Linked DNA regions of Homo sapiens: all the other regions are linked to region 1. The links come from fine-mapping of genetic effects on gene expression. A gene starts in region 1. Each other region holds a variant in brackets. All regions are shown on one strand. Distances are between the middles of the regions.

Region 1 (4,310 bases):
CGGGACAGCGCGAGTTCCGGGTGGGCGTGGGCTCCGTGGCCCCGCACTCGGAGGGCGGCCGGCACCCCCGGCCCGGGCAGTGAAGGGCTTAGCACCTGGGCCAGCAGCTGCAGAGGGGGGCGTCAGGTCCCCCAGCACTGCCAGCCGGCCCGCGCCACGCTCAAATTCTCACCAGGCCTCAGCCACCTCCCCATGGGGCAGGGCTCGGATCTGCAGCCCGCCATGTGCAAGTCCCCCCGCGGTGGGCTTCTGCTAGGCCCTAGCCTCCCTGAGGGGCACCGCCCCTGCCTCAGCGGCGTCCAGTCCCATTGACTGCCCAAGGGCTGCTGAGTGCAGGCACGAGGCACGAGCGCAGGACTGGCAAGCAGCTCAGCCCGCAACCCTGGCATGGCATCCACTAGGGGAAGCCAACTGGGCTCCTGAGAGGGGTGGGGACTTGGAGAACTTTTATGTCTAGTTAGAGGATTGTAAATGCACCAATCAGCACTCTGTCTAGCTAAAGGTTTGTAAATGCACCAATCAGTGCTCTGTGTCTAGCTCAGGGTTCGTGGATGCACCAATCAGCACTCTGTATCTAGCTAATCTCCTGGGGACTTGGAGAACCTTTATGTCTAGCTAAAGGATTGTAAACACACCAATCAGCACCCTGTGTCTAGCTCAAGGTTTGTAAATGCACCAATCAGTGCTCCGTGTCTAGCTAATCTAGTGGGGACTTGGGGAACCTTTATATCCAGTTAAAGGATTGTAAATACACCAATCAGCACTCTGTATCTAGCTCAGGGATTGTAGACACATCAATCAGCACCCTGTCAAAACGGACCAATCAGCGCTCTGTAAAATGGACCAATCAGCAGGATGTGGGTGGGGCCAGATGGGGGAATAAAAGCAGGCTGCCAGAGCCAGCAGTGGCAACCTGTCTGGGTCCCGTGCCACGCTCTAGAAGCTTTGTTCTTTTGTTGTTTGCAATAAATCTTGCTGCTGCTCACTCTTTGGGTCTGCACTGCCTTTATGATCTGTAACACTCACCGTGAAGGTTTGCAGCTTCATTTCTGAGGCCAGTGAGACCCGAACCCACTGGGAGGAATGAACAACTCCGGACGCGCCACCTTAAGAGCTGTAACACTCACTGCCAAGGTCTGCAGCTTCACTCCTGAAGCCAGCGAAACCACTGAACCCACCAGGAGGAAGAAACTCCAAACATGTCCGAACATCAGAAAGAACAAACTCCGGACACGCTACCTTTAAGAACTGTAACACTCACCACCAGGGTCCGCGGCTTCATTCTTGAAGTCAGTGAGACCAAGAACCCACCAATTCAGGACACATTATCAAGATTCTTCACAAATGTTAATAGGGATTTTTATCAGTTTTAGTTGTAGTTTCCAATTTCTAAAAATGTTCAGGTAATTTTTTTACACCTTTCAGAACCTAGCTCATGAGTGTTGAATCAATGCTTTTTCATGTCAATTCTTTGTATAGGCATTCTTTTCAGTTGTATTAAACAAGAACCCTTCACAACAAAAAAACAAAAATACACGCTTCTTTCACTTGGAGCACTAGCTAATAGGAGGAAAAGATTCAGGTAAGGTAATTTACCTTCCCATATGAACTTAAAGTTTCATGTGTCACTCTCCATCTGGGGCAACTGTATTTTGAAAGACATGCTAGTTAACACAGGTGAATCAGCCTTTAATAGTGATAAAGTTTTTACTATAGTAGAAACTTGTGATTCTTTCCCTTTTCAATAAGGAAAGGAGATTACCGCCAGGAGTGATTTGCCACTTATTGCAGGTTTGCCAATTTTGATTCATTAACTGAACCCTCTTGCAGATTCAGGAGATAAAAATGCGGAGTGCCCAGTTAAATTTGAATTCAGATAAACACCAAATAATTTAGTATATCCCAGATATTTCATTTTTAAAATAATAAATGTGACCCATGCAATATTTGGGACATACTTCACTATTTGTATCTAAAATTCAAGTTTAACTGGGCATCCTATATTTTATCTAACAACCCTACTGTAATTGGTTTAGGTTGCTCTTTAATGCCTTTGGTTTGCTTTCAAAAATAAGTAGTCTCAAAACAAAGCATCCGATTTCCCAGTAGTTAGAAGAACTCAATACCGGTTCCGAAGCTTCTTCAATTAAAAACGTGCTTCAAAAGAGAAGCCAATTCTGTGGGAGATACTTTCCCAAAAAACTCGGGTTTGGGCCCCTATACCGTGAACTACAAACCTCCGCAGGGGTAGGCCCGGGCTGCCCGCCTCACACCGCACTCGCCAGCGAGCAGGGGCCCGGCACCGCAGCCCGGGGCAGAGGCCTTGGAGGTTGTGGAGGTGGGAGAGGCCTCGGCCGACCCGCTTCAATCCGTCTTCTCCAAGCTCGGTGGGGAAAACAAACTTCCTGAGCGGCCCTGCCCCCTCCAGATGCCGGACGCTGTTTTCGTCTCATCCCCGTCTGGGTTGGATGGCGAAGACGGCGCTCAGAGCACGCAGCACCGGGAATTAACAGCGAGTTTTGAAATCTAGAGCTCGCAAGGTGTGCGTCGCCTGCTGCTGTTCATTCCAGAGGGTCTTCTGCTGGAGAAGGAGGGGGCCCTCGACCTCGGGCTCCCGCTCTCGGGCTCCCGCTCTCTCGCTCTCTTTTTTTTTTTTTTTTTTGGTCGGAGGAAAGAAAACAGCCCTGCGCCCGGATGCGTAGAGAGCCGACAAGTGGAAACAGGGACACACCCTCCCGTGAGCCCGCCCAAGCTGGAGCCGCGGCGCGCTGAGCGAGCAGGCGGGGCGGGAGCGCCCACAGCTCGGAGCCACCAGGCGCTGACGAGGAGCCCGGCTGAGGGAGGATGCGCCGCTGACGCCTGCGGGAGCCGCGCGCCTGGGGCGGGAGGATGCTCCAGAGGGGCCTCTGGCCGTGGCGCACGCGGCTGCTGCCGACCCCTGGCACCTGGCGCCCAGCGCGCCCGTGGCCGCTGCCGCCTCCGCCCCAGGTAAGAGCGGGTGCCGGGCTGTGGGGGTTCGGGGTAGGCTGGTGCAAAGTTTGCGTTGGACAACTTTGGCGGGAGCAAAAGCCGAGCGGCCGAGCAGTCAACTGCGTTTTGCTGGCTGCCGGGCTCCGCGCGCCGGGCGGTCCCGACAGGTGGTGGCCGGGCGGCCGACGTGGGTCACGGAGGCCTGGGCTGAGGTCAAGACTCCGGGCCCGGGGAAGGTGAAGCCAGAGCGCTGCGGCTGGGGGTGCCTCACCCGGGCCGAGATAGGGTGCGGGGACCACCAGACTTCGGCCTGGGAGCAGCAGAATAACCTGGGAGGCAGTTTCTGGGCTGCAGCTCTCGGTCAGGAGCAAGTTTCCAAAGCCGCTGCGCCGCGGGGCCGGTTCCCTCTTGGTGATCAGTGCCCGAGCCCCTAAGGAGCCCGGAAACGATGAACGGGGCAGTGACCGTCCCGGGTGTGGACGGTCGCAGGAGAGTGAAATTTCCATCCTGAAATCTGCGAGCACCTCCCTTTCCCAGAAGGAAGAAAAACTCGCGTTTTGTTCAGACACCCGAGAGACGGGTGAATCATGAGTGTGCTGGTGAGTAACAGTTGGCCTGACACCGTTGTATTGTGGTCTGTGGAGAACCGTGGCTTGGAGGAGTAGAGAGTGGATGTGCACCAAAAAAGACTAGAAGAAGGGGAAAGCGCTGAGTTTAAGGAGGATTGCGATGGAGCCTGACAGGAGCCCGGGAGTGCAAACTCTGACCCAGATGAGGAAAGACAGCCAAAGCCTTCAGGGTGTGTGTGGTTGGGGAGGGAGCTGTTTCTGAGTTTTCGTTTGTTCCTCCCCCACACTGTTAAGATTACTTTCAGATTGTTAAAGGCTTAAAAGCCAAAAAGTAAGCAGTGTGATTCTCTTGTCACTTTCACTTCCTGTTTATTTTGTTCTTTTTTTTCCTTCCCCCCCTTTTCCTCCAGCTGTCTGAGGGCTTCAGTTTCAATTGATGCAGGGAATATTTAAGTGCATTTTTTTTTCCTTTTCATTGAGCTTGTGACCAAAGGATTAAGTGCATTCAGAAAATCAATTCCAGGAATGTTTGAAAGAGAATGAGGAAGGCCATGTTGTTACTAAATGTAAGAACAGGGGCAAACTCCTTAAAATGTAAAATGGTAGACTTATAAAGTCATTGGGGAGATGGGCTTTTTATACTTTTAAAGGTTGTACTTTTACTGTAAGTGTTGCATTGTGTAGTCAAAGAGATACCAAACATTAAAACAACCCAATACGAGGAACCCCTTTCACATGCCATTTTAAACACAGATTATTGTTTTTTGTTGT
Region 2 (4,000 bases), 83 kb after region 1:
CTCAAGGGCAGGGAGAATATTACAAAGTACCTTCTTAAGGGCAGGGGAATATCTCAAAGTGCATTATCGCAAGGGCGGGAGGGTGTATTGTCATAAGGTCAGTTGATCAGTTAGGGTGGGGCAAGAACAGATCACAATGGTGGAATGTCATCTTTTGTGGTTCTTCAGTTGCTTCAGGCCATCTGGATGTATATGTGCAGGTCACAGGGGATATGATGGCTTAGCTTGGGCTCAGAGGCCTGACACCAGGCATTGACTTTTCCTCTCTAGCTATGAAAGTCCTAGATGGCATCGTCTTCCAATGCAAGGCAGTATTGGAATCTGAAAATCTGTTGTTTAGTGTAGCCACCTTCATCAATGATCTTAGCTAGATCTTCTGGATAACTTGCTCCAACTTCTACATCAGTACTTGTTGCTTCACCTTGCACTTTTATGTTATAGAGATGGCCTCTGTCATTAAACCTCATATACCAACCTCTACTAGCTTTCAACTTTTTTCCTACAGTTCTCTCATTTCTCTCAGACTTTACAGAATTGAAGAGAGTTAGACCTTGCTCTGGCTTAGGCTTTGGATTAAGGGAATGTTGTGACTGGTTTGATATCCAGACCACTAACACTTATCATGTTTCCATATCAGCAATAAGGCTATTTCACTTTCTAATCATTCGTGTGTTCACTGGAGTAGCACATTTAACTTCCTTCAAGAATTTCTCTTTTGCATTCACTACCTGGTTAACTGGTACAAGAAGTTTAGCTTTCAGTCTACCTCAGCTTTTGACGTGCCTTCCTCACTAAGCTTAATTATTTCTAGATTTTGATTTAAAGTAAGAGATATGCCACTCTTCCTTTCATTTTAACACTTAGGGACCATTGTAGTCTTATTAGTTGGCCTAATATCAATATTGTCCTTAGGGAATAGGGAGGCCCCAGGAGAGGGAGATGGGAAGGGAAAGGTTGGCAGAGCAGTCAGAACACATACAGTGTTTTTTTTGTTTAGAGGAGTCTCACTCTGTCGCCCCGGCTGGCGTGATGTTGGCTCACTGCAAGCTTCGCCTCCCGGGTTCACGCCATTCTCCTGCCTCAGCCTCCTGAGTAGCTGGGACTATGGGCGCCCGCCATAACACCCGGCTACTTTTTGTATTTTTTTTTTTTTTTTTTAGTAGAGACGGGTTTTCACCATGTTAGCCAGGATGGTCTCGATCTCCTGACCTCGTGATCCGCCTGCCTCAGCCTCCCAAAGTGCTGGGATTACAGGCGTGAGTCACCGCACCCGGCCTAACACATACAATATTAATTAATTAAGTTCCCCATCCTATACGACCATGTTTCCTGGTGCCCCAAAATAATTACAATAGTAACATCAAAGATCACAGATCACCATAACAGATGTAATAGTAATGATAGTTTGAAATATTGTGAGGATTACTAAGATGTGACAGAGACAAAGTGAGCACATGCTTTAAGAAAAAATGGTGCTTATAGACTGGCTTAGAAGCAGGGTTACCACAGCCCTTCAATTTGTACAAAAGGCAGTATTTGTGAAATGTGATCAAGTGAAGCACAATAAAATGAAGTATGCCTGTATTTTCAGGCATTGTATACTGCCATTTCATTTGTCAGTTCTCTGTGTATTCAAACCTCCTGTGAAGGAACCTTCTGATTTCATATTCATTACAACAGAGGGTGTAGCAACTTAGAATTCTGTGCTTTAGAAATTCAGATGTGTTACTACCTTCATGTAGTTCCCATTTGTTTCCCAGTTTGGAATTACTACCTTTGTCACGAAAAGATCTTCAAGTACTTCTGCATTATATAAAAGTGGTGACTATAAATAGATGTATTCATTTAAATAGTTTATGTCTGTATACAAAATTCTATGGTCTAGATGCATAGCTAAAGAAATTATCTTTGGCTCAGGAAAATAGATAATTGTATTGATTTCACAAAATACTGTGA[C/T]TGCATTTTTGGAGTTGTTTTTGGATCCTGAAACATATGATTTTGAAGATCTTTAGTGGTGATAAGAATTTATCTTTTCAAGGGGATAGTTTTTGACAAGCAAATATTATGAACCAAGTCTGTTGCTTTTTCTTACCCGGGTTTCAGCTTCTGTCTTCAATCTTTTTAAAGTAAATTACATGATTTAATGATATCTGTGGAATACTACTGAGTGAGCCCTGAAACAGCAAGAATAATGGAGTTCTTGCCCATGGATATGGAAAGGGCAAATCGTAGCACCATATTATTTTCGAAAGCCTCATACTGAGATTATTGTCAGATATGGTGCTTTTGTGGCAGGGTAATTAAAGTTGTCCTTAAAAGGCTTATATTTAGAAGTAATTGTTTTTATTTATTTTTCTGTATCAGTGTGTTAGCTGTCGCTTTTATACTAAGAAATCTTAAACTGCTATCCTCTGATTTATAGTCATTAGGCAAATTATGCTAGTCCCTGCTGTTCATTATGTATCAGTATTTTTTCTTCACCCCAGGTTAAAAAGTTGTTTCCTTTTTGAATCAGGCTGCTGCATCTTTTTTATTTTCTGCTTGAGCTCAACTTCTTTTTAGGCTATATTTTCTACTTGATACTTGACATTTTCCTAATGCTTCTAGAATAGGAGGCTGGATCACAAAAAGCTGCTATTTCTACTTTAAAGAGATGAAGACTGAAATTTTTTTTTTAACTGTTCTTTTTGTCATACTCCCTGACATATTGTTTTTTGGTTAAATGATATGTAGTAGAGTTATTGATATACAGTACTCTCAGCTAGATTTTTTTTTTTTTTTTTTTTGAGTTGGAGTCTTGCACCATCACCCGGGCTGGAGTGCAATGGCGTAATTTTTTGTATTTTTAATAGAGACGGGGTTTCACTGTGTTGGCCAGGCTTGTCTCAAACTCCTGACCTGGTGATCCGCCCACCTTGGCCTCCCAAAGTGCTGGGATTACAGACGTGAGCCACCGCACCCGGCCACTCTCAGCTAGATTTTAATACGGGAAACAACTTACCATTTTTTTAAACATCCAAGAGAAAAAATATTATTCAAACTTGACTGAGTAGGTGAGACTTATTTTCTTTTATTTTTGAGATGGAGTTTCCCTGTCGCCCAGGCTGGAGTACAATGGCGCAATCTTGGCTCACGGCAACTTCTGCCTCCGGATTCAAGCAATTCTCCTGCCTCAGCCTCCTGAGTAGCTGGGATTACAGGTGTGCACTACCACACCCAGCTAATTTTTGTATTTTTAGCAAGGACGGGGTTTCAGTATGTTGGCCAGGCTGGTCTCCAACTCCTGACCTCAAGTGATCCACCTGCCTCAGCCTCCCAAAGTGCTGGGATTACAGGGATAAGCCACCATGCCTGGCCTTATTTTACTTTTTTATTTTTATTTATTTATATTTTTGAGACAGAGTTCCACTCTCGTCTCCCAGGCTGGAGTGCAATGGCGCAATCTTGGCTCACTGCAACCTCCGCCTCCCACATTCAAGTGATTCTCCTGCCTCAGCCTCCTGAGTAGGTGGGATTACAGGCATGCATCACCATGCCCAGCTAATTTTGTATTTTTAGTAGAGATGGGATTTCACCACGTTGGCCAGGGTGGTGTAGAACTCCTGACCTCAGGTGATCCGCCCACCTCAGCCTCCCAAAGTGCTGGGATTACAGGCATGAGCCACTGCACCTGATTTTATAAATAACTGATGCTTGTTTTTAAGCCATCCAGTCTGTAGTACATTGCTACGGCAGCCCTAGGAAACAAATACAAACACTAAAGCTGTAAAACATGTTGGAAAATAAACTATTTGCTCTAAGACATTTTAAACAAATTTGTGTTAAAACGAGTAAAAAAATGTTAAACAAGATTTGGGGGAGCCTCGCTGAACCTATTCTGGTTCGGAGGCTGCCCGATTAAAAAAAAATTAGGTACATTATATTCAGTGGATTCTTAGAAAATGTGAAGGTCTTTGTCATGTTCAGTAGAGGGGCAAAGATAAAAAAATTGAGGCTTTGT
Region 3 (4,000 bases), 73 kb after region 1:
CCCAACATCAGGTGACCCACCCGCCTCAGCCTCCCAAAGTGCTGGGATTACAGGCGTGAGCCACTGCGCCTGGCCTGCAAAATTGTTTTTTTATTCTTGCATTAAATGTACTGCCGTTCCTGGACTTCCTATTATACAAGCTGACTCATTATTTGAAGAGTCCCTGAGCTTCACCATTTCGCAGACCTGACAACATACAGAATTCTTTTTGATTCTTTATATGATAGTTTATTCTCTTTTTCACCTTTTCTGCCTAGATACTCAATTTCTGGACAGAAGTCAGTGGCAACTCAGATGAGATCAAGCTAGTATAATTTGCCATAGAGGATAATCTTTCAGAGGAAGCAAGTTATTATATAAATAATTTCCGCTCAATTAGAAACTGAGTATGCACACAATCTGTACAGTTCTGTTTGTTGTGATGTTTAACACCACACTACACACGGGCACTTGATTTGTGGCTTCTGATGTCAACACATTTCTAGTTGATGAGCTTTACTCATCTCTCATGTTTTGTGACTCTAGGAATCTGTTTTTCTTTTCAACTATCACACCTCTTTTATTTTTCATCTCCCAACATCAGATAACTAGATAGGAATGTGAAACTCCTTCACATAGCTCTTTTTTATTCAGAAAATAAATAATAGAAATTGAGTGCCTGTGGCATATGTACTAAATATTGTGGTAAATATTAAATATATGCTTTGGACACAATACATGTTCGCAGGATTTTCCTTTAAAAAGTGCAGTGCAAAGTGCAGTAAGGAAAAAAAGAGGAAGTATAGTTTCAGTTATTAATTTATTATCCGTCAGCCCCAAATCTATAGTTCTTTGCCCTGCTTTGTGATATTGGAGTTGGACTCTGTCAACATTTCTCCTTTACCAGCTGTGCAGCTTTAGGCTCTGTCAGTGCAGGACCTGGGGAGACAATGCATGGTGGCAACAGTAGATCGGTACTGTCCTTCCAGTTCTGTTTCACCTTCCTTTATTCAGCCCAGGGGTCCTCACAGATCAACTTAAGCAGCACTCTCAGACCTTTCTCTCCCCACCTGCAGGCTGTTTCTCAGGCAGCTCCAGCCCAGTCTTCTGGCTGGTTTCCTCCCACCAAGAGGGCTGGTCTAGAGAACAGCTTGGTCCTGTTTACACTGCTGACAAACGGCAGGCCCCTTTCACAGCCCACCTCTGGCTCTTTGGCGCTGATGCTTGTGTATTTCTCATGTAGCCAATAACCACACCCTCTTTGAAGAGGTCCGAATCTCAGCCTAGATAAATGTTATTAAGGAGCACTAAGATCCAAAGAACAAAACTGAAATAATACATCCCTCCATTATTGAAATTTATTTACAGCAGAGGTCAGTGTACTTTCTCTGTGAAGGGCCAGATAGTAAATATTTTAGGTTTTCTGACCACATATGTATCTGTTTCATATTCTTCTTTTTCTTAAACAGTGTTTTGAAAAGATTAAAAAAAATCTTAGCTCATGGGCCATGGTTTGCTGAACGCTGGTTCAGAGTATGCATAAAGTAAAATCTTGCTTTTTTCAACTAGAGAAATCTAATCTAAAATAGTGAGAAGTCTGAATTTTAGACTTA[C/T]CATTTATTGTTGCATAACAAATCTCTCTAAAATTTAGTGGTTTAAGACAGCAGTAATAATTTATTGCTCTCACAGTTTATGTGGGGCAGGAATTTGGGAGCAGATTACCTAGGCGGTACCAGCTCAGTGTCTCGAATGAGATTGTGGGTGCTGGTTAAAGTGGTGATGATTTTTTAGTTTTTAAATTTTTTATCCCTTTTATGTCTTCTGTCATTGCTTTTTTTTTTTTTTTTTTAAGGTGGAGTCTCACTCTGTTGCCCAGGCTGGAGTGCAATGGCGCGATCTTGATTCACTGCAACCTCCACCTCCCGGTTCAAGTGATTCTCTTGCCTCAGCCTCCCAAGTAGCTGGGACTATAGATGCACACCACCATGCCTGGCTTATTTTTGTATTTTTAGTAGAGACAGGGTTTCGCCATGTTGGCCAGGCTGATCTCGAACTCCTGACCTCCAGTGATCCGCCTGCCTCGGCCTCCCAAAGTGCTGGGATTACAGGCATGAGCCACCACACCTGCCCTGTCATTGCCAATTTTTATATCAGCACTATCTTGATAGGTGTCAGGGTGGAATGGCCAAGTGAATGTCAAGCCCTGAGGCTGATATGCCAAAATAATGATTATGAAACTACAATATAGGTAAGAAGGTGTGAGGTTAGAAAGTAGAGATGTAAGGAGGTGACATGTGATAGAAATACATACATTGTATTATAGGAAGGGATCCAAAATGAAATGTATGACTATAAATTTATAACAGAAGCGACAGAAGTGAAGAAATACCTACTGAAAAAATAAAATTTAAACCATTCCAGTTTTCAGATGAAGTCTTTTGTTTTGCGTGTATTTGGATAGAACATAATATTTTATAATGAATTATTATTATTTTTTTTTTGAGACAAAGTCTCGGTCTGTCGCCCGGGCTGGAGTGCAGTGGCGCGATCTCGGCTCACTGTAAGCTCCGCCTCCCGGGTTCACGCCATTGTCCTGCCTCAGCCTCCTGAGTAGCTGGGACTACAGGCATGCACCACCACGCCCAGCTAATTTTTTTTGTATTTTTAGTAGAGACAAGGTTTCACAGTGTTAGCCAGGATGGTCTCGATCTCCTGACCTCATAATCTGCATGCCTCGGCCTCCCAAAGTGCTGGGATTACAGGCATGAGCCACTGCACTCAGCCTTTAATTAATTTTTAAATGAAACTATAAGTACATCACTAAATATGCCTGAAGTAGAATAAATGTAAAGCATTTTATGTGTTGATTTGCACGACTTGAATAGAGTTGCCAACTGTGCTACCCCATGTGGCTCTCAGCCTTCTATCATCTCAGACACCCAGGCATCAAAGCAAGGAAGACAACTTTGTTAGCACCATCTGGCTAGACCGCCATGTAGATTCTCTTCCTTTGAGACCGTGCTTGACAATAATTGGCTTAGATTAGGAAAAAAATTGGTATATGTTCTTATCTAAGAGACACCACCCCCACCCCCACCATCCCGCCCATGTACAGCTTTTCTTCCTAAATTATTTCTTTCTCTGGGGCTCTATTACACTTTATTTATTCTTTTTATTATCACGCTGTACTTTCATTGTATTATTCCTGTCCTAACTCTTATTATTATAAAGAAATCTCACCAAGGAGAATTTAAATCTCATTTCAGAGGTCCAGTCCAGATTTAGCTGAGAATCTTGAAGAATAACATTCATATAGAAAATGTATAGTCCATAAGTTTAATGAGTGATCATGCCATGCAGTTAGAATCCAGACAAAAAACAGAATGCTGTCAGCACCTTAGAAGTGTCTCCATGCAGGCCAGGCACGGTGGCTCATGCCTGTAATCCCAGCACTTGGGGAGGCCGAGGTGGGTGGATCATCTGAGGTCGGGAGTTCGAGACCAGCCTGACTAACATGGAGAAACCCCATCTCTACTAAAAATACAAAATTAGCTGGGCGTGGTGGCGCGTGCCTGTAATCCCAGCTACTCAGGAAGGCTGAGGCAGGAGAATCGCTTGAACCTGGGAGGCGGAGGTTGCAGTGAGCTGAGATTGCGCCACTGCACTCCAGCCTGGGCAACAAGAGCGAAACTCTGTCTCAGAAAAAAAAAAAAAAAAAAGAAGTGTCTCCATGCTCCGTTTTAGTCACTACCTAAGCCCAGCAGTGTTACCACCATTGTGACTTCCAACACTGTAGATTACTGTTGCCTCTTTTTCAAATTTATATGAATGGAATCTCATATACTCTTTTGTGTCTGTCTTTTTTGCTTAACTTTGTGAGATTCAATCATGTTGTTGCATTGTTACTGTATTCCATCTGATGAAGATGCCATTATTTATTCATTGTGTGGTAGAAGTTATTAAATTATTTTAGGCAGATAGAAAGGAAAAGGGGTCCTTGGACATTTTCATTTTTAAAGCA

Direction of the effects. Alleles are on the strand shown, and positions count from the first base shown. SD is a standard deviation of normalised expression in the study named. Not every link is listed here.
As copies of C replace T in region 3, the expression in sigmoid colon of the gene that starts at base 2,798 in region 1 goes down (small effect, 0.22 SD a copy in GTEx).

What was found. PIP is the estimated chance that this variant, and not a neighbour inherited with it, causes the effect.
Region 2: its variant is the best candidate, but not a certain one, in a credible set for the expression of MCUB in whole blood (INTERVAL, PIP 0.69).
Region 3: its variant is the best candidate, but not a certain one, in a credible set for the expression of MCUB in sigmoid colon (GTEx, PIP 0.53).

Annotation. Positions count from the first base shown.
Region 1 is chr4:109,557,449-109,561,758 of GRCh38, forward strand. It overlaps MCUB (mitochondrial calcium uniporter dominant negative subunit beta), which reads left to right and starts at 2,798. Exons shown (of 8, transcript NM_017918.5): 1 at 2,798-2,988. The coding sequence starts at 2,890. RefSeq lists a silencer at 2,745-3,064 and an enhancer at 3,485-3,684.
Region 2 is chr4:109,640,128-109,644,127 of GRCh38, forward strand. All of the region lies in intron 1 of MCUB (mitochondrial calcium uniporter dominant negative subunit beta), which reads left to right. Among named protein-coding and RNA genes, the nearest start is that of CASP6, 61 kb to the right of the region's middle. The variant C/T (reference allele first, on the strand shown) is at 1,957.
Region 3 is chr4:109,630,806-109,634,805 of GRCh38, forward strand. All of the region lies in intron 1 of MCUB (mitochondrial calcium uniporter dominant negative subunit beta), which reads left to right. Among named protein-coding and RNA genes, the nearest start is that of CASP6, 71 kb to the right of the region's middle. The variant C/T (reference allele first, on the strand shown) is at 1,593.